Linked DNA regions of Homo sapiens. The protein of the gene in region 6 interacts with the protein of the main gene of each other region in a biochemical or structural test. Each region holds a gene or a part of one and is shown on either strand. Other genes may lie near its edges. The genes, in order: KPNA1, SIRT4, FOXO3, YWHAB, SMAD4, SKP2 and WEE1.

Region 1 (3,500 bases), on a different chromosome or scaffold from region 6:
GTGTTTTAGCACAGTGTTTGTTGAATTAATGATAAAATAGAGTTTTAATGATTTATGATGTCTGTGCTTTTAAGTCTACCAGATTGTTTTTAGATGTATGAGTACTGTGTATAAAATCAGTTAAGACCTTTGATTGGTCTTGCAAGTAAAGATGACTGACCTAGTGATAAAGATAACTCCTTGTTTTGTTTTAAGGTATCTTTGTACTTTGCATGGTGTTATGAATTTAGCCATAATAGGGAAGAAAACACTGGAAATGGTAAACAGTTAAATTAGCTGATTTGGGCTGATTTCTGTCTTTTGCTGCAGTAAGCAGGAGATGGCCTGAGGCCAACTGAGGGCCAGATAGGGCCTGCATTAGAAAATTTTGAGGTTGTACATTGGAAGAGTAGGGATGAAGACTGTGGGAATGTATGTTTCTTTCTTTCTTTTTTTTAAAGATGTTACAAACCTACAAAACAACATGAAAAAATGGTTCTGTCCAAGTGTTGTAGACTAATTGGGACAGTTCTTGAAAGCAGGCAGTAATCCAGAATGTGGATAATGGAGATAATCTCCTTCATATTAACAAGAATAATGCTGCCCTTCATATACAAAGATAAGTCTGCTTACTCATCATGATTGTTTTTCCAGCGTGAGGAGGGATATGTGCTGAGTCCATGAGTGCCTATATACTCTGTGAGCAACAAGGCAGGTTGGGGTCAGAATAGGCAGCTTGGGGTCAGAATAGGCAGCTTGGGGTCAGCTAGGGAACAGAAAGACCCGCTGAAAGTACTCTGACATCTATTGATGGGTCAGGTTCTGCATCAGGTGCTTTCACTTACTTGTTCTTGCAAAACCATTTTGAGGAGGTGATTACGTGTGCAAGGTGATTGGGTAACTCGCCTTACTTCACAAAGTAGTGGAGTTGGGATTCAAATAGGGCTGTTTGTACTGTGTTCACATTGATCGTTAAAGATTGGTTTTAGCCGTTCAGTCTCTTTGGCAGAACAAACTAGATGTAGTTTAACACCATGAAATAATACTGAAGATCTAATATAACCGTCGTGAGATTGTTCAAGTTCCTTGTTTTATCAACATTAAAAAAATAAAATTTTGGAATTAGAATACCTGAAAAGCAGCTGTTCCCTGTCCCAGCCTCTGCACTTGAAAAGCTACCATTTTCTTTCTTCTAGCTGTTTCCTCTTGTGTTTGCTTTCATATTTATAAATACAGTGACTTGCTTTTATTGCTATATCATGATATAGCAATTATAGATATTATTGGCTTTCGTCTAAGCAAGATGTTCCTTAGTGTTTCACATATATATTCACCTCACCTGCCATATGCACACACTGTCTCTACCATCCTCCAAATATAGTTATCACAGGTGTGTCTACTAAACCAATATTTAGTGTTTACAATATTGTAACTCTATAAATGTTCACAGCTGACCCATGTAGAGTACTGTGATATCATTTCTTCTCTTAATAAATTTTTGTTTTTCTACAAGTTAGTATTTTTTGTTGTTGTTTGCTTCATTTCCTGAGACAGCTAACCTGGAACCTCTTAATGCAATTAGGACTGGTTACTTTCTAGGCCTATTTCATAGTTGTTATCCAGGGACTTCTCTTTTCATCATCCTTAAACTTCTTTGCCCTCTTTTGTACTGGTTCCCCTGTTTACTGTTTCCTGTATTTTCTTTCTTGGTTTACTTATTTCCTTGGAGTACATTTTTTAGTAGCTTTCTGAGAAAGGATACATGGAAAACAAAAACTTCCTGACATCTTACATGACTGAAAAAAATCTTTATTCTTCCTTCGCATTTGATCAGTAATTTGTCTGGGTATAAAATTCTGAGTTGAAAGTAACTTCTACTTCAAGTTTGCAAGTCATAGTTCTATTGTTTTCTTTCTTCCAGGGTTACTCTTGAAATCCAAAGCCAATCTGATTCTTTGTTTGTATGTGATCTTCCTTTACCCCAATCTCTAGAAGCTTTTAGGATATTTTTAACCCTCAAAATTCCATGATGATGTGTCTAGGTATGGGTATTTTTTTGTTTAAGGGCATTCCATGGACCTTTATAAGCTGGGAGTTCATGTCCTTTAGTTCTCGAAAGTTTTTGTTATTATTTGGATGTTAGGCAAAAAGAATTTTAGAATGAATTATGCTTCTCAGTTCTTGTCACACATCAGATCGTACAAGGTCCTTTAAATTTTTATCTTAAATTTCTGAGCCCTACTTCTGTTACCTCTTTGTATAACATTGTGGTTGGTACATTCCTTGATTATATATGAAACATTGTAAAATATGTAGTGGAGCTGTGTATGTTTAGGTATTGTGTTATAGACCTTGCAAAGGTCTTTTTCTTTTTTATTCAACATTGATTTGGGGATCTTTCTGTTTTGTTGTAAGTATGTATAGTTGTGTCTAATGTAGAATTCTGTAATGCAGATCTACCACATTTTACTTTTCATTCCCTAGGAATTGATCCCTGAGTTGCCTTTCTGCTATTTCAAATACCCTGTGTTATATATACTCTTGTACATTATTATAGACCTGTATAGAAGTTCTCTAGGATATATACCCAAGATTGTGATTCCTTGGGCATAGAGTGGGAGAATTAGTGTATGTGCCTACTTGAGTGCTTGAGAGTTCTTTTTTGCTCACATGTTTGCCTTTACTTGGTTTTATCTTTCTTTTTTTTTTTTTTGTTTGATAGAGAGTCTTGTTCAGTTGCCCAAGTGAGTGCAGTGGCATGATCTTGGCTCACCGCAACCTCTGCCTCCTGGGCTTAAGCCATTGTTCTGACTCAGCCTCACGAGTAGCTGGGTTTACAGGGGCCCGCCACTACGCCTGGCTAATTTTTGTATTTTTAGTAGATACGGGGTTTCACCATGTTGGCCAGGCTGGTCTTGAACTCCTGACCTCAAGTGATCCACCCTCCTCGGCTTCCCAAAGTGCTGGGATTACAGGCGTGAGCTACCGCGTCCAGCCTCTCATTCTTATTTTATAGTATATTTGTGTTGTTTCATAGATGCTGTATTCTTTCTGGGGATATTAATGATAGTTTTAAAAATTTTGTTACCATTGTTGTCTTTTCTTTATTGAGGCTTTCCCCAGATGTCTGGTAGTCTTGTGGCTGTCCATTCATATTTAAGAATGAAGTGCCAAAAACTGAATTGGAAGCTCTATTAAGTGTGGCTTGTTGAAGGGTGAAGAGAGTAGCTGGTGGCCATTTTTTTTGTGGTGGGTGGAGGGCATATACTCATAGGTTTGTTTCTCTTGGGCTAGTCAGTTTCCCTGAGAGTCTCCAGTCTCTTGCCAGGAGAATGTGTGTCTGGCTGCCATGTTTTGAGAACTCATTTTAGAAAAGGAGCTTGGGTTTTTACTGTTGTGCTCATGTAATTCTGTTATCAATAAGGCACCTCACCCCCACCCTCACCTGCATTGGAGCACCCATTTGAAGGGATTACTGAAGGATGGTTGTCTGGTTGTGAAGAGTGGAGGAGGAAATCTGG
Region 2 (3,500 bases), on a different chromosome or scaffold from region 6:
TAGCCATACTTTCTATTTTATTTTTTTTATTTTTGGAGACAGGGTCTGGCTGTTGCCCAGGCTGGAATGCAGTGGCACGATCTCAGCTCACTGCAGCCTCAACCTCCTGGGCTCAGGTTATCCTCCCACCTCATCCTCCTGAGTGGCAGGGACTGCACTACAAACACGCGCCATCTCGCCCAGCTAATTTTTGTAGTTTTGGTAGAGACGGTGTTTCACTGTGTCGCCCAGGCTGGTCTCAAACTCCTGGCCTCAAGTGATCCTCCCTCCTTGGCCTCCCAAAGTGCTGGGATTACAGGTGTGAGCCACTGCGCCCAGCCCATCAATTTCCTTCCTATACACTCCTTCCTAACCTTCTGCTATAGCTCACTTTTATCCTTAACATGACTGCAAATGCCTTGCCTGCTGATTTCCTTAATGCCCAAACCTGCGTTTTTCCCTCTATACTTTCCCTTGCTCATCTGCTGAATTTGCCACTGTCTATTACCATTCCTTCTAAAATGCTTCTCCTTCTTGGTTTCCAGGACACAGTGTCTCCTGGTTCTCTTCTCACCTCTTTTTTTTTTTTTTTTTTTTTTTTTTTTTGAGAGCAAGTTTCACTCTCATTGCCCAGGTTGGAGTGCAATGGCATGATCTTGGCTCACCGCAACCTCCACCTCCTGGTCTCAAGCGATTCTCCTGCCTCAGCCTCCTGAGTAGCCGGGATTACAGGCAGGCTCTACCACACCCGACTAATTTTTTTTGTATTTTTAGTAGAGACGGGGTTTCTCCATGTTGGTAAGGCTGGTCTCAAACTCCCGACCTCAGGTGATCCGCCTGCCTTGGCCTCCCAAAGTGCTGGGATTACAGGTGTGAGCCACTGCACCTGGCCCCCCTTCTCACCTCTCCAATCACCAGAGCTTGAGCCAGTGAGGGAGAGCACTTTGTGTCTGTTTTTATTTTTTTATTTTATTTTTTATTTTTTTGAGACGGAGTTTCACTCTTGTTGCCCAGGCTGGAGTGCAATGGCGCGATCTTGGCTCACCGCAACCTCTGCCTCCCAGGTTCAAGCAATTCTCCTGCCTCAGCCTCCCGAGTAGCTGGGATTACAGGCATGCACCACCACGCCCGGCTAATTTTGTATTTTTAGTAGAGACGGGGTTTCTCCATGTTGAGGCTGGTCTCGAACTCTTGACCTCAGGTGGTCTGCCCGCCTTGGCCTCCCAAAATGCTGGGATTACAGGCATGAGCCACTGCGCCCGGCCTATTTTTTTTTTTTTTTTTTTTTTTTTTAAGAGACAGGGTCAGGCTGGGCGTGGTGGCTCACGCCTGTAATCCCAACACTTTGGGAGGCCGAGGCGGGCGGATCACGAGGTCAGGAGATCGAGACCATCCTGGCTAACACGGTGAAACCCCATCTCTACTAAAAATACAAAAAATTAGCCGGCCGTGGTGGCGGGCGCCTGTAGTCCCAGCTACTCGGGAGGCTGAGGCAGGAGAATGGCGTGAACCCGGGAGGCGGAGCTTGCAGTGAGCCGAGATAGCACCACTGCACTCCAGCCTGGGCAACGAGCGAGACTCCGTCTCAAAAAAAAAAAAGAGACAGGGTCTTGGCCAGGCGTGGTGGCTCTTACCTGGAGTGCAGTGGCATGATCATAGCTCACTGCAGCCTCGAACTCCTAGGCTCAAGCAATCCTCCTGCCTTAGTCTTCCAAAGTGCTGGGACTACAGGTGTGAGCCACCACAACCAGCCTCATTTTTCTCCTTTTAGTTCTAGTCAGCCATCAGATTATGTTGATTTTCTTCTCTTAAAAGAACCCCTGTGGCCAGGCATGGTGGCTCACACCTTGTAATCCCAGCACTTTGGGAGCGTAAAGCAAGAGAATCGCTTGAGCTCAGGAGTTCCAGACCAGTCTGGGTAGACAGCAAGACGCTCTCTCTACAAAAAAAATTTTTTTGGCTTGTCTTTGTTTTTTGAGACGGGGTCTTGCTCTGTCGCCCAGGCTGGAGTGCAATGGCGCGATCTCGGCTCACTGCAACCTCCGCCTCCTGGGCTTAAGCGATTCTCCTGCCTCAGCCTCCCGAGCAGCTGGGATTACAGGCGCCTGCCACCACGCCCAGCTAATTTTTGTGATCTGCCCACCTCGGCCTCCCAAAGTGCTGAGACTACAGACGTGAGCCACCACGCCTAGCCAAAAAAAATTTTTTAATTAGCTGGAGTTCTAATTACCCAGGAGTTCTAGGTTACAGGGAGTTATGATGGCACCATTGCACTCTAGCCTGGGTGTCAGAACCAGACCCTGTCTAAAAAAGAAAAAAAGGCCAGGCCGGGCACGGTGACTCACACCTGTAATCCCAGCAATTTGGGAGGCCAAGATGGGTGGATCAGTTGAGGTCAGGAGTTTGAGACCCGCCTGGCCAACATGGTGATACCCTGTCTCTACAAAAATACAAAAAAATTAGCCGGGTGTGGTGGTGCACACCTGTAATTCCAGCTACTCAGGAGGTTGAGACAGGAGAATTGCTTGAACCCAGGATGTAGAGGTTACAGTGAGCCAAGATCATGCCATTGTACTCCAGCCTAGGTGACAGAGCAAGACTTCATCTCAAAAAAAAAAAAAAAAAAAGAAAGCGGGCACAGTGGCTCATGCCTGTAATCCCAGCACTTTGGGAGGCCAAGGCAGGCAGATCACCTGAGGTCAGGAGTTTGAGACCAGCCTGGCCCAACACGGTGAAACCCAGTCTCTACCAAAAATACAAAAATTAGCCGGGCATGGTGGTGCATGCCTGTAATCCCAGCTACTCAGGAGGCTGAGGCAGGAGAATCGGTTGAACCCGGGAGGTGGAGGTTGCAGTGAGCCAAGATCTCACCACTGCTCTCCAGCCTAGGCGACAGAGTGAGACTCTGTCTCAAAAAAAAAAAAAAAAGAAAAGAAAAAAAGGCCCCTGTGAAATGTCAAGAAGTCCTGGATTGTTTTAAAATGCTTAAGAAGAGACAGAATGGATAAAGTAGACATGACAAAATCTTGATAAAACCTTGGAATCTGGGTGATGGTATATGAGAATTCATTATACAATTCTCTTTACTTTTGTGAAGTTTGAAATTTTCATTATTAAAAGAACAGATTTTCTTCATGAAAAAAATTGTGAGTTTTTTTTGAGACAGAGTTTCACTCTTGTCGCCCAGGCTGGAGGGCAATGGCACAACAGTCTTGGCTCACCGCAACCTCCGCCTCCCAGGTTCAAGCGATTCTCCTGCCTCAGCCTCCCGAGTAGCTGGGATTACAGGCATGTGCCACCATGCCCGGCTAATTTTTTGTTGTTCTTGTACTTTTAGTAGTGACAGGGTTTCTCCATGTTGGTCAGGCTGGTCTTGACTCCCGACCTCAGGTTATCCACCCGCTTCGGCATCCCAAAGTGCTGAGATGACAGGCATGAGCCACCACGCCCGGCGGAAAAAATTGTTTTAATGAATCCATAAGCATCATTAACTCAAATTCCCTGGATACCACCTTAGTCTA
Region 3 (3,500 bases), on a different chromosome or scaffold from region 6:
TATTCTAGACTCTTTCATATATGAATATTTCTAACAGAAGCAAAATCTGTTAATTATTCTTTATCTTAGTACTAAGCATCTTTATTAGCTAGCACTCAAGAGCTAAACCTTTAAAAAAGTAAGAGGCCAGGCACAGTGTCTCACGCCTATAATCCCACAACTATGGGAGACTGAAGCAGGAATTGCTTGAGGCTAGGAGTCAGAGACCAGCATGGGCAACATAGCAAGACTCTGTCTCTACAGAAAACTTAAAAAATTAGCTGGGTGTGGTGACACATACCTGTAGCCCCTGCTTCTCAGGAGAATCCCTTGTGCCCAGGAGTTTGAGGCTGCAGTGAGTCATGATCGTGCCACTGCACTCCATCCTGGGTGGTAAAGCAAGAACCTATCTCTTAGAAAAAAAAAAAAAAAAAGCCAAAAAATTAATTTGAAAACACAGGTGTTTGTATGAGGGAGTACTTACTCGTGTGCTTCTGCTTGTTCACCAAACTATAAATGATATCAGCAGTTTCCAAACATAGAGTGACACAGGTTGTGAATGGTGATGGAGATTTTTTCAATTGTGGCATTTTAATGTTCTCAGAACCACAAAGATCAGGCAGTGTGATGTAAGAAAAAGCATTTGATTGAAATCAGGAATTGAGGTTCAGGCCCACTTCTACCACTTTCTTGCTACCACTATGGTTGTGTCTTAGGTCTCTGAGTCTCAACTTCCAGTTTTATAAAATGAGGATAATAGCCCCCATTACTTCACAGGGTTATTACAAGAATCAAATGCACTAAAGCATGTGAAACTGCAGTAGGCTGAAATATGTACCATGCAACTAGGTATACTGACAAATGGGCAAGCAGGTAGCCCAGAGAGGTTAAGTAGTTTGCCCAAGGTTACAGAGCTAGGTTGATTTCTTTTTTTTTCTTTTTCTTTTTCTTTTTTTTTGAGATGGAGTCTTGCTCTGTCTCCCAGGCTGGAGTACAGTGGCGCGATCTCGGCTCACTGCAAGCTCCACCTTCCAGGTTCACGCCATTCTCCTGCCTCAGCCTCCTGAGTAGCTGGGACTACAGGCGCCCGCCACCACGCCTGGCTAATTTTTTTTTTTTTTTAATTTTTAGTAGAGATGGGGTTTCACTGTGTTCACCAGGATGGTCTCGATCTCCTGACCTTGTGATCCGCCCGCCTCAGCCTCCCAAAGTGCTGGGATTACAGGCGTGAGCCACCGTGCCCGGCCTAGATTCATTTCTTAAATGGCTTGAACCCCCATAGTAGTTCTTCCTTATTCTCTCTAGCTGGTTAGAAAAAAAGCGGGGAGGGGAGGGAAGTGCCCTGAACTGGAGTCAAAGTAGCAGATGATAGACAAGCTTTCCCTAAAAACTCTCCTCCTCAAGAAGTAAGATGAACACTGGGATCTTCTACCAACAGGTTTGCACCCCTAGCCACCTCGATGTTAACAGGTTCTGTTCCGTGCCCCAGCCCTTTTGCTTTGTTTTGTTTTAGTCTCAGCAAGCTACTTACAGGCTTCTTTAAGTGGTGTAAAAAGCAAGGGAATTCAAAGCTGTAAAAACTTGAGCCTTGTTTAACCCTCTGCCATGATGAAGGACTTAACAAGGGTCTCCTATGGTGAGCTCACTCCAGCTCACGGGTGGTTGCAGAAAGGGGAATGTTAAGAGTGTTGTGATGCTAAAGCCTCTCAACTTTCTCAGGCCTAAGAGACCCCTAATGGAACTCAGATATCTGATTTCAGTCATTTAATAGCCCTTGAGATGGTGAAAAGACTGTAATGGAAGCTAAGTAGGGTGGTAGTACTTCCATGCCAGCCAGCTCAGTTCCATACCAGAACTTGGGCTAGTGGAGATTTGACTTCAGAAATGTAGATATTTGGCCTTTAGAAGACTAGTTTGTCTTCCTTTAAGGAGAAGAATATGGAAGATTTGTCTTTAGAAATGTAGATGTTTGGCTTTTAAAAGAATAAATGGTTTGTCTTCCTTTAAAAATAGGCTTTTAAAGACACAAGTAAGTTTTAATTTGAGTGTAATTGTAAGGAGGCCACTTTCTAGTTCGTTGGAAAATATGTGTTCAGAAGACAATGTAGTATCAGTTTTTGTCTGATTTTTCAAGTGTTGGTTTCCCTTTTGGTTGAACAGCAGATCTTTCTCGTATATGTGTAATTCTAAAGGATTGTACAGAAAATTAAGGGAGATCTAAATACTTAGATTTTTAAAGTTTATCTGGTGAACTCTGATTTTGGTGATGATAATAAATGACTGCATTGAGGATAATGCATTTCATTGTTATATCCTAATGAAGCTTTAGGGTCATCTTCGCCTCAGAATATTTTGGGGGAGGTTGTTTTGAGAAGATAACTTCTTCAGCTAAAAATGAAAAGTCACCAAATTTTCCTGAAAGTAGACTAGCTCAGTATGACCACAGAGCATTTAAAGAACCATCCAAAGGACAGTGGGGGCTGTGAGGGGATCTAGTTTCTGGTTTAGGATTTCCATTTTTGCTTAGAATCCATTGTTCTTTCAGCAGCCAGGAGCACATGCAACCTGAAGTGTATTTTTTACTTTAAAACTTAACTGTGACTGTCACTTCATTGAAGACTCTCCTAAATTCACAGAACGAGGCTGAGGTCAGACTCTGACACCCTGCTTCTCTCAAATTAACTGTCCCAGCTTCCCAAGAGTTGCTCTCTAATAACTTTCTTGGTTTAACTTCTTAGTGTTTCTCCAGACTGAATTCCTGGCTTGCTCACAGAAGAAGGTCATGTGATGCTGAATCTGAGCCGCCTTGTGTTAATGGAGCGGTCTGCTCAGTTGACAGGCAGTCTTGCTGGGGAGCTGCAGCAAGATGCTTCTCTGGCGGGCTGGGTGTTTCACACGTCATTCATTTTAGACCACGTGTAGAATTCTTTGACCCTTAGGTCTATCTGGAAAAGAAAAAATAGCCATACTTTTTTGGAGGGCTGGCTGCTGGGTCGTGAAGGGCACTGTGTTCTCTCAGGTGTTCATAAAGCTTGGTGCATGTGCTTACAGTTGGTGGCAGAGATGGTCATGAGCTGGTGTGGTGCTGCAAGCTCGAGCTTCCGGTAAGCCTTCTTGAGTTCGACATGTGTCCTCTCTGAGGGAAACCAGCTTCAGTCTCACCTTAATTTGATATCAAAGATGCCTGCATTCACAAACTTTCATTCATCTTCATCTTTTGACATTTGGAGACACCATTAGGGAGCAGCCCAATATTTAGTTTAAAGTACTTTACATAAAGACTGGGAAGCATCCACCAGCAAAAGCCCAGATGGAGAGGGGAGGGGTGGTTCACTTCTTGTCTCTGCCACATCACTCAATCTTGTAGAATATTAGGTTTCTCATTTGTCAAAAGAAGACAGCCTCATCAAGTTTTAAAGGTGCATAGTATGTATAATTTTAAACTTGAAGACCGGGCGCAGTGGCTCACGCTTGTAATCCCAGCACTTTGGGAGGCCGAGACGGGTGGATCATGAGGTCAG
Region 4 (3,164 bases), on a different chromosome or scaffold from region 6:
TGTCTGTTAGCTGTTTCCAGCAGAAGTATAAGGCATATTTACAAAGCACCAACCAACAATGACAGAAACTCCAAGGTAAGAACTTTGCTGTACCTAATAACTAAGCAGTATTACTGCTAACCCTAGCACAGTCATTCTGGGCAAACGCGTGTGATTTTTTAATTACCAAAGACTTTTCTAGCAATCTTCTATTTAAAATTATTTATTTATTTAAACTAAAACTCAAAATGTCTGGAAACTCACATCACTAAATCTGATTTAAGTGACGGAACTTTAAGGCACCTTTCCCGAATAAAAATGTTTTTAAAAAGTTGTGTGCATGTTGAGGGACTATAAAAAATATGTAGAGAAGGCCAAAGGAAGAATATGGAAGGTAATCCAACACACAACAAGAATGTGCTGTGTATTTCTTTTATACAACTATAACCTCAAATCTTGGCATGAGAATGACAATGTATAACCAAGGCCCAAAGCTTGGTAAGAAACAACTAACTACATTCACCTGGAACTTTCTACAACCACCCGCAAAAAACAGTAATCAAACAAAGTCAGCAGAAGGTATTGAGAATGAATTAAAAAAGTAACAGATCTGTATTTATCTCATAAAAGATACACTCCCACCCCCAGAAAATCTTTCAAAAAAAGTCCAAGACAATGAGTATGTTCAGGAATAAAATGAAGTTAATAACACAAGCACTGTTTTGCTATGGTTAGATATCACAAAGGGTCTTTCTCACCGTTTTTGCCAGGCTACAGGCCTTTTCAGGAGAGTTTAGAATCTCATAGTAAAAGACTGAGAAATTTAGTGCCAGACCAAGACGAATTGGGTGTGTAGGCTGCATTTCTTTCTTACTAATTTCAAATGCTTCCTGGTAAGCCTGCTGGGAGTTCGACACAGTGGCTGTAACATAAAGATGAAAATATTAAAGGCTCGGTTCTTTCATAGGTATCACACATTGGACCAACTATCAAATTATTTTCTCAGTCCCAAACTGGGCAGGAGCAATGACCTATCAAATGAAGTGTCAGTGTCTCTGCCATTCAATTATACATTTGTTAGATATTTATTCTAAACCAAGTTGTATATTAAATGCTTTGGGGGAAAACAATTATGACAAAGTCTACTAAAGCAGTTAAATACAGCTATAACCTTTAACAATATAGAATGTGAAAAACCATACATTCTAGTGCAAACATCACAGGCTTTAGAGTCGATAGATCCAAACTTTAATTCCCAACTCTTACTCCCTAGGTCTGTGGCTTGGGGCAAGTAGAAACCTCCATAAACCTCAGTTTATATGAAAAATGGGCAGCCTGCCACCTAACTCGTAAGGCTGTGTGAAGAGTAAGTGAGACTCGGAAGTACTTGGCACAGAAGCACTTAATAAAGTGTGGTTAAGATTACCACCATCACGGTAATACATGTGATAAATGCAATGCATCACTAGGGTAGTTTCGTACCACCAAGTATAAAAAGTTCACTGCTAAAAAGAGAGCTAACAAATAATACTCAAGATAAGATCTTTTTAAATACACTGCGCACCAGGTTTGTAATGCCCTCCATACTTCCCTGTCAGATAAATTTTTATTTGCCCGCCCATGACCCCGTTCGTCACAATGCTGTGGTCTTTTAAATTCTTAGTACTGTGACATTGGTGTCTATGGCGAACAAAGCAAAAATCGTTAAAAAGTCCCTGTGAAAGAAGACTGGCTCCATTACTGGTCGAATTTCTTTTTAAAGATATTACTTACTTTGTTTGTTGTCTCCAGATGCCACTTCAGAAAGATACCTAAAATAATCTCCTTTCATTTTCAAGTAGAACACCTTACTTTCTGGTTGTGTAGCATTGGGAATAAGATATTTGTCCAACAGCTCCTAAAAAATGAACATTGTTAAGAATTTAGAATTATTCACGAGATGTTAAAACTATGTTTGAGATTCAAGATATACACTACTGCTTCTAAATAATTTTTTGGAAGATTAAAAAAACACCAATTTTTCATCCAAGCTACTAAATGTTGTTTAGCCCAGGTCATAACAGCAGATGCCTGTATTCTTCTGTTAAAAATCACTTTGACCATCCATAGGGGATAATTAAAGTATAGCCATATAATGAAATGTTTTGTAGGCCTTTAAAATGATGCAGAGCTAAACAGATAATGGAAAGGCTCTCAAAAGAAATCTGAGTGGAAAAAAAGCAGATTATAAATACCACAAGAATCCTATTTTAACATTAAGATACATTTGTGTACATGCTCACAAATATATAAGGGAAAAGCCTGGAAGGAGTATGTTAATAATGGTTCTCTGGGTGGTAAGATTAGAAGTGATTTTTACTTTCTTATTTATATTCTTCTGACTTGTTCCCCCCACCATTTTTAAACCCACAAACTGGTATTACTTCTATAATTAAAGGGGAAAAAATATCTTTCCTTAGGAGGAAAAAGGTGATAATAGAGCAAAACTGCCAAGAACTAAGTTTAAAGTCAATCTGACCTGGGTAGAAATCCCTCTTCTGCCACTTATTATCTGTATGACTCTGGACAAATTACCTAATCACTTTGAGCCTCACTTTCCTCAGCTATACGAAGGGTCATCTTCTAGGGTATAGCCATCTTCTAGGGTAGTTATAATGATAAATAAGTTGACATACATAAAGCGCTTAACACGTTGCCTGGCACGTAGTAAGCACTCAAAGAGTAGCTAATACTATTAATAATAAATTCCTTTAAACATTTATGCTTACAACAAAAGTAGTTCTGAAGGAGTCCAAGCTTCGTATACAGAGCAATATTTTCGAAGAGTTGTTTTAGAATGTGGCATCCTGAAAAACTGGTTAAGAGGCAGTAAGTACCAAGCTCTTCTTCACATTCTTTCAGATGCTCTTAAAAGTTGGTCTACATTTCATGAATTATGGAACTTTCTTGCCCTTGGAATGCATGACATACTTCATCTGAATACCAGATGTACCTAACATTCAGGAATTAGTGCACCATTAACAAACCCCCAAATTACCAACAGGCAACAAATTTAGTCATGACACTCTTACGCCATGAGTCTAATAAAAAGAGAAGCTCAATGCAAAGCTTAGTTATAAGGGGATTTAATCAACCAAAGTGAGAAGATGCAGGGGGCGGCAGTCGTTTTAATATTCTTTGTAGAC
Region 5 (3,500 bases), on a different chromosome or scaffold from region 6:
TTTCCGTTTGGTTCTAAACCTATAGGGGACATTACATTCAGTACACTTCATTTTTAAAGAATATGTTGCTTAACAATAATTCTAGATCCTGGGATTGGATATCTATCAGATCCCACTCATATCTCCACAGTGTGAAATTAACAAAAAGATATAGTTAAATACTCAGTCTCTATTTAGACCGAATAATTGTTTTTCTCAGCTGGACACATTTTCCAGCCATTCGGTTTTTGCCTGCCTTATGTATTTAGGTGATTATTCTTCTAGGTTTATCAAGAAACTGAGGAGTACCTTTTTAGGATTGTTGCTGGAGGCTGTTGAAACATAGACTAGCTTCAAATTTGAGAGTCAGATTGATTGATAAAATATATCTCATGCTGTTACCGCTGAATAAATGACTTTTGCTGGTAAAGTAGTATGCTTTTAAAATAATATGAAAAAATTCTGAATTAAGGTTAGTAATTTACACTGTAATTGATTTTAGGTGTTATTATATTACTTGCTAATAAGATTTTTTTTTCTGGGAATAGAAGCTTATAAAAATTTAAAATATGTTTAATTTTCTATATAGCTCCATCAAGTATGATGGTGAAGGATGAATATGTGCATGACTTTGAGGGACAGCCATCGTTGTCCACTGAAGGACATTCAATTCAAACCATCCAGCATCCACCAAGTAATCGTGCATCGACAGAGACATACAGCACCCCAGCTCTGTTAGCCCCATCTGAGTCTAATGCTACCAGCACTGCCAACTTTCCCAACATTCCTGTGGCTTCCACAAGTGAGTTCTAGAATCAGATGTAGTCAGCAAGTTGAGTTTTCCTAATCATTGCTTATTTATGTGTAGTCACTTGGGGGGAAACTCCAAGTAAGTAAACATTAAAAGTAACTGTAGTATCTTTCATAGGTAAACAGGTATTAAACAGGTATGCACAATCACTTGGAATTTAAGTAATGGCTTTGATTATAATATTGATTTAAATTAATGATCTGATTTATACTTTACTATTACATGTAGCAGTAAGTAGCCTCTTAAGCTCCCAGATATATTTTGGAGAAATATTTAAATAATTAACAAGTAGTTTTGATCCAAGATGTTTATGAAGGTCTGTGTTAATGGAATTGCAACCTTTCTTTTAATGCGGTGTTCTTATTTTGGTTTTTCTGGGACAATATTACCTTATAGTAGTTGTCTGATTTTCTCACTGTGCAAAGGGATCTTGACAAATTTGTTATATATTGCTCAAGATAGACATTAATTAAGTCAATTTTGATATAAGCTAACTTCTATATCTCTTTTTAAAATATATGTGTAATTAAAAAAAAAAAGTGTTTCAGAAAGATCCTTCTTTTCTGCCATGTCATAGGAGGGAGAGGGGCTGCTAGGTTCAGGTTTTTGGGGGCATGATCATATGACCTGGTTCTGTTACTTATTTTCACAGTAACCAAAGGTTTGATAGTTTGCTGCTTGGCAAATGAAGTAGCTTTTTTTTCATTTTTTTTTTTTCAATTAATCATAGAGCATTGTCTTGGCATGTGTATGGTGTTAGTTGCATGCAGTTGCTAAAGGAATTTATGTAAACCCACATCAGAATAGATTTTTGACAGCTCTGGGCTAATACTGTGTTAGTTGCTACCGAAAGTACCATTATTGTATTTGCTTTACTATCAGATTAGATTCAACATAGAAATTTTGATCTTTGGAATAAATGGGGGACTGATTTCTGTAATTGTGAGTTTTCAAGTGAAGTATACCAGAATTTCCCCTTTAATTCATTACACCACTTCAAAGCAACATGTTTTTGGTTTGCTATCTAAGAGATGACAGTCTCACTATAGGCAGCATATTCTAAATGGGTCATATAGGTTAAGCACTTGAGAACCCAGTTCCTTAATCACTTGGTGCTTCTATTATCTGTCTACTTTTTATTTACCAAATTAGGAATATGGTTGACAAACAGTGGGTAGTGATAGAAAATAAAAGAAGGTACATTATAGCCACTTGAACGTAGATTAGTGCTAGAGCACAGCTACCTACTTCTGTTTATATTATCTGGAGATTGAATTTCTGTGCCTTTGTCAATGCTTACTAAAGTGACTTCATTTTGACTGTGTTGTTTCCTGAGGTTGAATCCTATTCAAAGATTAGAAAAAGTGATAGAAATGAAATGCAGCTAATTTTATCCTGGTATTTATTGGGTAGATTTTAATAATCGAATACCGTAAATACTGTAAGTTTTAGAACTTGTGTCAAAATGTTCCCTTATGTGGTGGCATGCGCCTGTAGTCCCAGCTGCTCCGGGGGCTGAGGCAGGAGAAATGGCGTGAACCCGGGAGGCGGAGCTTGCAGTGAGCAGAGAGCGAGTCACTGCACTCCAGCCTGGGCGACACAGCGAGACTCCATCTCCAAAAAAAAAAAAAAAAAAAAAAAAGAGGGTTCCCTTAGGTCTCAAAAAGTATATTGATGAAAAGAAGTTGAACTAAAATAGAAGATTTGAAAGGCTATTTTACGTGAGCTGATTTAGTCGTATTGTTTAACTTTATTTTACATACTTAGAATTGTATAAGGGAAGTATTCAGTATGGATAACTACAGTGAGTCACTTTACAATTTATGTTCTTTTGACACCTGAATATTTTAAGAATTTCCTTTTAAATACCTGTAAATTAAAATAATTTATCCTGTGTAGTTAATGACAATTTTTGTAAGTTAGCTAAGAGTATTGCCTGTAGAATTGTTAAAAATATGAACAAAACCATAATTAACCTTTAAAGATAACTTGCAGAATCTGGGGGATGAGTAGGAAGGGAGGTTGCTAAAATGTCATTTTTACAGATAAATAATTTGGGGAGTATTGAAATATTCTCTTTAGCTTTTGGTTTTGTAATTCTTAGCTTTAAGGAAATGTGATATGTAAAGAAAAGAAAAATATTCCTTTTCTTTGATACTTTGAGCAATGGTGACATGTTACTCTCTTCCATCTGATTATACTCCCATTTAGAAAAGAATGAGGTGATGCCAGTTATAAATAATTATAACTTTAGTGCTTTCCAAATAGGATTAACAGTCGAGTTAATTAATGCTCTTTAAGAAACCAAATTTCCACTTTAAAAAAAAAGCCTTAAAAATGTAGGACAGTAAGCAATATCATAGGATGGTTTTTGAATAGAATACAAGCCAAGAGAAGCTTGATTCTCTTGGTATATTACATACAGAGAGGGCAATTAATTTCTTGTACATCTGGGAATATGATGGTGTTCTTGAAAAGAAATGATTCTTGGTTTATAAAAGCTCTTGAAAAAATTTGAAAGTAGACTGATAGTTTTTTTGTTTGTTTTTAACCAGTAAATGGTATATTGATTGGACAGCAGAGCTAGATCTTTTTAACTTCCTCATCTTCACTATCACATCCTATTTAAAATAATTTTCTGCTCTGCTTTTCTCTGTCAAACCCTAGCATTCTGCCATTACTAGTATCAGTGCTGATAGTGATTAATTTT
Region 6 (3,500 bases):
TAATAAACAAAACACACTCAAATAAGCTAGTACTAACATCAAGATATGGTTGATGTGTGTTGCTGGTTTAACTAGGTTTTGTAGAGCCCACAAACTGAATGTTGGCCTGAGACGGTGAAGCCATTTAAAAAACTTGCCATTTGTAATCACTTATCTTTGCAAATCAAGATTTTCTCATTAACATACAAGTAAAATAAAGCGTAACTGAATATTAAGGTTTTTAAAGACTGCTCCCTGCTACCTTTGACTTCTAATGCCTGTTTTCATCTAAAAATCCTCGTTGCCCTCTTGGACTGAATAAAAAGTAAAAGTCATAAATATGAACTTATTAACAGAGTTTATAATAGTTTTTCAACCTTGGAACTGATGTTTGGACCAGATTATTGTGCATGCTATTCTCCATCCTATACACCGTCCACCAGCATCCTGGCTTCCGCCCATGAGAGACCATCAGCACTCCTACAGCTGTGACAATAAAAAATGTCTCCAGACATTGACAAATGTCCCCGTACAGACAAAATAGCCCCTAATGAACAACCACTACTTAATACTAATCAAATGCTACATTTATGTATTTTTATGTTGGGGTTTACCTAACCATTTAGTTGATTAAAAGTTTTTCTGCTTAAAAATACATTGTTTTCAAGTGTAAAGGTTTCTACTGTTAGATCCTGAATTCAAACCTTGGCTCTAGCTCACTAGCTGTTTACCTTTACCTAACCATTCTGATTAGCAGCTACCTCATCTGAAAAAGGGGACTAACACATGCACTGGATTAAATGAGAAAACTTATGTGGAGGAATGATTAGGAGAAGCTCAATGAATCTCATCTATTATGTTGTGAAGGCCTCAGTGGTCCAGGCTTGGAAGCTCTAACCTGATTTCTGGAGATTCTTTCTGTAGCCGCTAAGATTCAGCTGGGTGATGGTCTCTGACACATGCGCAACAGCCACCTGTACATGCTTTTCAGTGAAATCAAAACACCAGGAGAGGTTCAGCTCATCCAGTCTGCACAAAAGAGGGGTAATAAACAAAATATGAAACCATCACACGGGAATGAGTTTGCCTCAAACTGCAAACAAAGAAAATATAAAACCATGGATTCCTTATCATTTCATGCACAGAACACCTGCTTCTCTAACAGTAGCTACCTTTAGTCACCTAAGTATACCCTGTTTGCCCCTGAAAGTTGCCAGGGGATCAGAAGGGCCTTAGTGAATGTGCCTCCTCCTCGAAATGGAGAGAAGCACCTGATGGCTCAAACCTTATTCCAGTACTGCAGGTAGAAATGCCAGTCTTTTATGTTTGCTTTCTCAAACTACCAACCACCCAACACAGACTGAACAATCACTCAGGATGTTTTACGCAATTGATGGATTGCACTGAGGATTCCTAATAAAGAGATGCTGATATTGCAAAAAGCCACTTCGTCTTACTGTGCTTCTGCTAACTGAGCAAAAACGAGGGTTTCAGAGACAAAATACAACCATTAATCCCCACTCCCCACTTCTGGCACTGCTGACTAAATATAGGGCTATACATTTGATCTCACTGATAACACGCATATCCAGAGGCAATCTATTTTAAATGGACCATTAACAAGACACAGATTCAAATGCTGTACCATGGAGACCAAGGGATATTTTTAAAAAACACACATATGCCTAGTACTGTGTATTCCAAAAAGCATGTACTCCCCTCACTTAGCAATATCTGTAACTCTGTACCCTTTATGTGCTGACATTATTATGAAAGATATTGTTAATAGAATTGCCCAAATTTACGGTCTATATTTATAAAACACCAAATTTGATAAAAAATTGTAAGTTAGGTCTACAGATACCATAGGGGAAAAAACCTGAATGTACAGTTAAGTGTGAGCAAATTTCTTACAACCATACTGTTGATAGACACTACTACACTTCCCTTATTTTAACAGTTCCAAATAAACAAAAAAGAGATCACTATACAAGTATCACTTGCAAACTCAATTGACTTGGCTCCTGAGTTTGGACAGAAAGTTAGGAGGGCAAAAGATTTTGCATTCACCAAATCAAGAGCCTGGAAAGTACAAAAAGCTCAAAAAGTTCATCCCATTTTATACAGATGTGAGGGATAATTTTACGTTTGACATAAGAGTCTATAATCAAGTCTCACATCTTTCATACCTGGAACAGCTGCTTAGCAAAGTCTGCAGGGCAAATTCAGAGAATCCAGAACACCCAGAAAGGTTAAGTCGCACTAAATTTGAGTTTTTTGCGAGAGTACTGGAAAAAGAGAAAAACGTCAGAAGAAAAAGACCAGTAAGACACTATTCATCAACAACATTTAGATGAAAGCAGGCGAGTGTAGTTAAGCTCACAGGTCTTTGAGTCAGTGAGTTTAAAATGTATATCACTATCTCTCAGACATCAAACAGGATAATTTGCCTCAGTTTACTCATTTGTGAAATGGTATTATCAAACTTCTTGGCAGAGTTATTAAGAAGATTAAATGATATAATGTAATAAAAGACTTACTATGAAGCAAATACACAAGAATATCAATCAATGTACTTTTTGAATTAAAAAGACAATGGAATAAACATATATCCATTTCACCCATAATTAGAATTAGCTTGCAAACATCTACTTGTAAAATCACCAGGTTCTTTTGATTATACATCTCTCAAATTTGCCATCTTCTCTAATACATCCCCAAATGCCCTGTGTTAGTAAAACTTAGTGATTAAGAGTAAGAATTCTGGAATATTGTATCACTAGGTTCACATGTTGGTTCAGCCACCTACTAACAATGTGACCCTGGAAAAGACTTACTCAGTCTCCCTGTGTCTCAGTTTCCACAACTATAAAAAGGAAACAAGATCACACTTCATAGGGTTGCTGTCAGAATTAAATGAAAATGCATTTACAAAATTCACTATCTGGCACATAATACATGCCCCAAAACATTAGCTGCTATTACTGCTATCTGTTTTATATCAGACTTCACCTTTTCTCACTTGAACGAACACAGCAGTATCCTTAACTACTCTAGCTTCTTCTATCCTCGATGGACCCTCCATGGTACCTGGCAAGTTAATTTCCTAAATTTCAACTCTTGACTTGTTCCTTCCATTCTCAGAACAACTCTCTCCACCATCCTTCCCTTTTTTTATTTTTTTTTCAGATGGAGTTTTGCTCTTGTCACCTAGGCTGGAGTGCAATGTTGTGGTCTCAGCTCATGGCAACCTCCGCCTCCCGGGTTCAAGCGATTCTCCTGCCTCAGCCTCCTGAGTAGCTGGGATTACAGGTGCCTGCCACCACACCCAGCTAATTTTTGTATTTTTAGTAGAGACAGGATTTCACCATGTTGGCCAGGCTGGTCTCAAACTCCCAACCTCAGGTGATCTGCCCACCTTAGCCTCCCAAAGTGCTGGGATTACAGGTGTGAGCCACCACACCTGGCCCATGCTTCCCTCTTAATGGAAGAGTCCAGTCCATTCTTCTTACAGCAAGGCG
Region 7 (3,500 bases), on a different chromosome or scaffold from region 6:
CAGGTATGCTCATGCATTGACAATGGGCATATATATTGGTACAGCCTTCTCTGTGGAGAAGAGTGTGTGTGTGTGTGTGTGTGTGTGTGTAAAACACACCATCTCCATATATTACAAATGTGCATACCCTTTAACCCAGCAATTTGGCTTCTAGGTGATATACTAAATGTACGTGAAATTACCAATGTACAAGGTTATTTATTAGGCCATAGTATGTAATAGCAAAGGCTTGGAAATAATTTTAAAATGTCCATCAAATGAGGGACTGATAAATGCATTTCTTTCTTTCTTTCTTTTTTTTTTTTTTTTTCGGGGGACTGAGTCTCACTCTGCCACCAGGCTGGAGTGCAATGGCCCGATATCGGCTCACTGCAACCTCCGCCTCCCAGGTTCAAGCAATTCTCCTGCCTTCTGAGTAGCTGGGATTACAGGTGCACGCCACCACACCCAGCTAATTTTTGTATTTTTAGTAGAAACGGGGTTTCGCCATGTTGGCCTGCATGGTCTCGAACTCCTGACCTCGTGATCTACCTGCCTCGGCCTCCCATAGTGCTGGGATTACAGGCGTGAGCCACTGTGCCCAGCCAATAAATGCATTTCTACTCAATTATACAATGGAATTCTATAAAGACAAGAAGAAATGGGTTGTCTTTGTATATTGGTATAGAGTGATCTTTAAGATAATGAACATATGCTGTTATTTATGCAAAAAGTTGAAAAGAATACATAGACCTGAGCTGGGCGTGGTGGCAGTGCCTGTAGTCCCAGCTGCTTGGGAGTCTGAAGCAGGGAATTTGAATTTGGGTTTGGGAATTCTAGGCTGTAGTGCCGATCTATGTTGAGCATCTATGCCGATCTATGCCGATCTAAGTTGAGCATCAGTATGGTGACCTCTGTGGAGTGGGGCACCACCAGGTTGCCTAAAGAGGGGTAAACTGGCCTAAGTTGGAAACAGCACAAGTCAAAACTCCTATGCTGATAAGTAGTGGGATCAAGCCTGTGAATAGCCACTGGATTCCAGCTGGGCAACATAGATAGACCCTGTCTCTTATAAATTAAAAACAAAAACAAACAAAAAAAAAGCCAACCTGATAATACTGGTTTACTCTGAGAAAGAAACAGGTGGATTGCTGAGGTGTATGATTGAGAGAGAGACTTTACATTTTATTTTGTACCCATGCAAATGTATTACCTATTGAAAAAACAATAAAATTTTGATTTCACAAGCAGGTTGAAGGGAGAAGGTCCTATAAAATAACACTTTCTTGGTTGAGATTGGTTGGTTGAGACTCATTTGGTAAAGATGGAAGAAAGAAAATATTTCAGAAAGAAGAAAATGCTAATATTTTCTATCTTTGTTAGGTGGAAGTTTAGCTGATGCTATAAGTGAAAACTACAGAATCATGAGTTACTTTAAAGAAGCAGAGTTGAAGGATCTCCTTTTGCAAGTTGGCCGAGGCTTGAGGTATATTCATTCAATGTCTTTGGTTCACATGGATATAAAACCTAGTAAGTATTGCAGATCTTCTGACCTGTGTTCTTTGGGGTTATAGAGAATAAATTACTTCATTATGACAACATTGAAAAAATATATATCTTCTGTTTTCTCATTGTTAGTTTTAAAAGGCCTTAGATCCACTTACCAATATTGTTTTATGATTTCTATTCATCTCTTCCCTTGTTAATCCCCAAAATTTGAGATAAACTTTTTTGAGACAGTGTCTCATTCTGTGGCCCAGGCCGGAATGCAGTGGCACCATCTCCGCTCACTGCAACTTCCCCATCCCGTGCTCAAGCAGTCATCCCACCTCAGTCTTCCGAGTAGCCGGGACTATAGGCATGTGCCACCATGCCCAGATAAATTCATTTTTATTAAAAGCCAGAAATTTTTGCTGCATCTTACAGGAACTACAGGTGGGATACTAATGAGGGCACTAAAAATCTGTGTTTAAAGCCCCACTCTTCCACTAGGCCAGACCATATTAAAATTTCCCCAGTTGACTCAAGTCCTTAATAGTTGATTTGTTCAAATTAGTATCTACTTAAGGATCATGCATTGCATCTGGTTATATCAGTTTTTCTTTTTCAGAACCCATCCTCTGCTTTGTAAAAATAATATACACTTATCTTGCAAGCTATCCCTTTTTCTGGATTTGACTAGTTGCTTCTTGTATCATTTAGCTTGTTCCTTTTTCTCCTATATTTCCTATAAATTGGAAGTTATAACTAAGGATTATGGATTCAAGTTAAGCATCTTAGGCTAGATGAATTTAGTGAGGTTTTATTAATCTTTGGAAACCTGTTGATTTGTGAGAATTTCAGTCATTTTGTACAACTTTATGAGTTATATGCTAGAATTTCATATGCGTATGTTAACAAGTCACTAAAGTTTCTTCTTTCTTTTTTTCTTTTTTTGAGATGGAGTCTCGCTCTGTTGCCCAGGCTGGAGTGCAGTGGCACAGTCTCAGCTCTCTGTAACCTCTGCCTCCCACGTTCAAGCGATTCTCCTGCCTCCGCCTCCCGAGTAGCTGGGATTACAGGCATACACCACCATGCCCGGCTAATTTTTTGTATTTTTAGTAGAGACGGGTTTCACCATGTTGGCTAAGCTGGTCTTGAACTATTGACCTTGTGATCTGCCCACCATGGCCTCCCAAAGTGCTGAGATTACAGGCGTAAGCCACCGTGCCCAGCATGTTTTTTATTTTCAAAAGACAAAAATATATTTGGATTTAAGGCAGTAAATGTGAATTCTTAAGGAATAGCTGTACTCATATAAAGTGTTAGACAAATATAATAGACCCTTATAAGGTATAAAAGTTGAAAATATTAAGGGATGTGAAGTTTAAAAATCTTCAAATTTAGACCAGGTGCAGTGGCTGACGCCTGTAATCCCAGCACTCTGGCAGGCCAAGGCAGGCAGATCACGAGGCAGGAGTTCGAGACCAGCCTGGCCAATATGATGAAACCCCGTCTCTACTAAAATTACAAAAATTAGCCAGGTGTAGTGGTGCGCACCTATAGTCCTAGTTACTCGGGAGGCTGAGGCAGAAGAATTGCTTGAACCCGGGAGGCGGAGGTTGCAGTGAGCCGAGATTGCACCATTGCACTCCATCCTAGGCAACAAAGTGAGACTCCGTCTCAAAAAAAGAAAAAAAAAATTCGCCGGGCGTGGTGCCTCACGCCTGTAATCCCAGCACTTTGGGAGGCTGAGGCGGGTGGATTGCCTAAGCTTGGGAGTTCACCACCAGCCTGGACAACACGGTGAAACCTCGTCTCTACTAAAATACAAAAAATTAGCTGGGTGTGGTGGCAGGCACCTGTAGTCCCAGCTACTCTGGAGGCTGAGGCAGGAGAATTGCTTGAACCCGGGAGGAGGAAGTTGAAGTGAGCTGAGATCGCACCACTGCACTCCAGCCTGGGCGACAGAGCGAGACTGTCTCAAAAAAAAAAAAAAAAAACCTTCCAATTTACAAATACCATCACAAAATAAGTTGTCC

The links.
Region 1: the proteins of SKP2 (region 6) and KPNA1 interact in a test that uses a peptide from one of them, tested with the Homo sapiens proteins (one study listed by BioGRID).
Region 2: the proteins of SKP2 (region 6) and SIRT4 form a complex in vitro, tested with the Homo sapiens proteins (one study listed by BioGRID).
Region 3: of the proteins of SKP2 (region 6) and FOXO3, one has a biochemical effect on the other in vitro, tested with the Homo sapiens proteins (one study listed by BioGRID).
Region 4: the proteins of SKP2 (region 6) and YWHAB form a complex in vitro, tested with the Homo sapiens proteins (one study listed by BioGRID).
Region 5: the proteins of SKP2 (region 6) and SMAD4 form a complex in vitro, tested with the Homo sapiens proteins (one study listed by BioGRID).
Region 7: the proteins of SKP2 (region 6) and WEE1 form a complex in vitro, tested with the Homo sapiens proteins (one study listed by BioGRID).

The regions. Positions count from the first base shown.
Region 1 is NC_000003.12:122,508,440-122,511,939, reverse strand, and holds part of KPNA1 (importin subunit alpha-5), read left to right. Parts: intron 1-3,500. UniProt on the Homo sapiens protein: Functions in nuclear protein import as an adapter protein for nuclear receptor KPNB1. Binds specifically and directly to substrates containing either a simple or bipartite NLS motif.
Region 2 is NC_000012.12:120,308,821-120,312,320, reverse strand, and holds part of SIRT4 (NAD-dependent protein lipoamidase sirtuin-4, mitochondrial), read right to left. Parts: intron 1-3,500. UniProt on the Homo sapiens protein: Acts as a NAD-dependent protein lipoamidase, biotinylase, deacetylase and ADP-ribosyl transferase. Catalyzes more efficiently removal of lipoyl- and biotinyl- than acetyl-lysine modifications.
Region 3 is NC_000006.12:108,665,417-108,668,916, forward strand, and holds part of FOXO3 (forkhead box protein O3), read left to right. Parts: intron 1-3,500. UniProt on the Homo sapiens protein: Transcriptional activator that recognizes and binds to the DNA sequence 5'-[AG]TAAA[TC]A-3' and regulates different processes, such as apoptosis and autophagy.
Region 4 is NC_000020.11:44,902,705-44,905,868, reverse strand, and holds part of YWHAB (14-3-3 protein beta/alpha), read right to left. Parts: intron 2,972-3,164; coding exon of another isoform or gene 2,951-2,971; exon of another isoform or gene 1,877-2,950; coding exon 1,753-1,876; intron 902-1,752; coding exon 738-901; intron 1-737. UniProt on the Homo sapiens protein: Adapter protein implicated in the regulation of a large spectrum of both general and specialized signaling pathways. Binds to a large number of partners, usually by recognition of a phosphoserine or phosphothreonine motif.
Region 5 is NC_000018.10:51,054,213-51,057,712, forward strand, and holds part of SMAD4 (mothers against decapentaplegic homolog 4), read left to right. Parts: intron 1-568; coding exon 569-781; intron 782-3,500. UniProt on the Homo sapiens protein: In muscle physiology, plays a central role in the balance between atrophy and hypertrophy. When recruited by MSTN, promotes atrophy response via phosphorylated SMAD2/4.
Region 6 is NC_000005.10:36,169,111-36,172,610, reverse strand, and holds part of SKP2 (S-phase kinase-associated protein 2), read right to left. Parts: intron 2,268-3,500; coding exon 2,169-2,267; intron 1,009-2,168; coding exon 878-1,008; intron 1-877. UniProt on the Homo sapiens protein: Substrate recognition component of a SCF (SKP1-CUL1-F-box protein) E3 ubiquitin-protein ligase complex which mediates the ubiquitination and subsequent proteasomal degradation of target proteins involved in cell cycle progression, signal transduction and transcription.
Region 7 is NC_000011.10:9,580,170-9,583,669, forward strand, and holds part of WEE1 (wee1-like protein kinase), read left to right. Parts: intron 1-1,362; coding exon 1,363-1,509; intron 1,510-3,500. UniProt on the Homo sapiens protein: Acts as a negative regulator of entry into mitosis (G2 to M transition) by protecting the nucleus from cytoplasmically activated cyclin B1-complexed CDK1 before the onset of mitosis by mediating phosphorylation of CDK1 on 'Tyr-15'.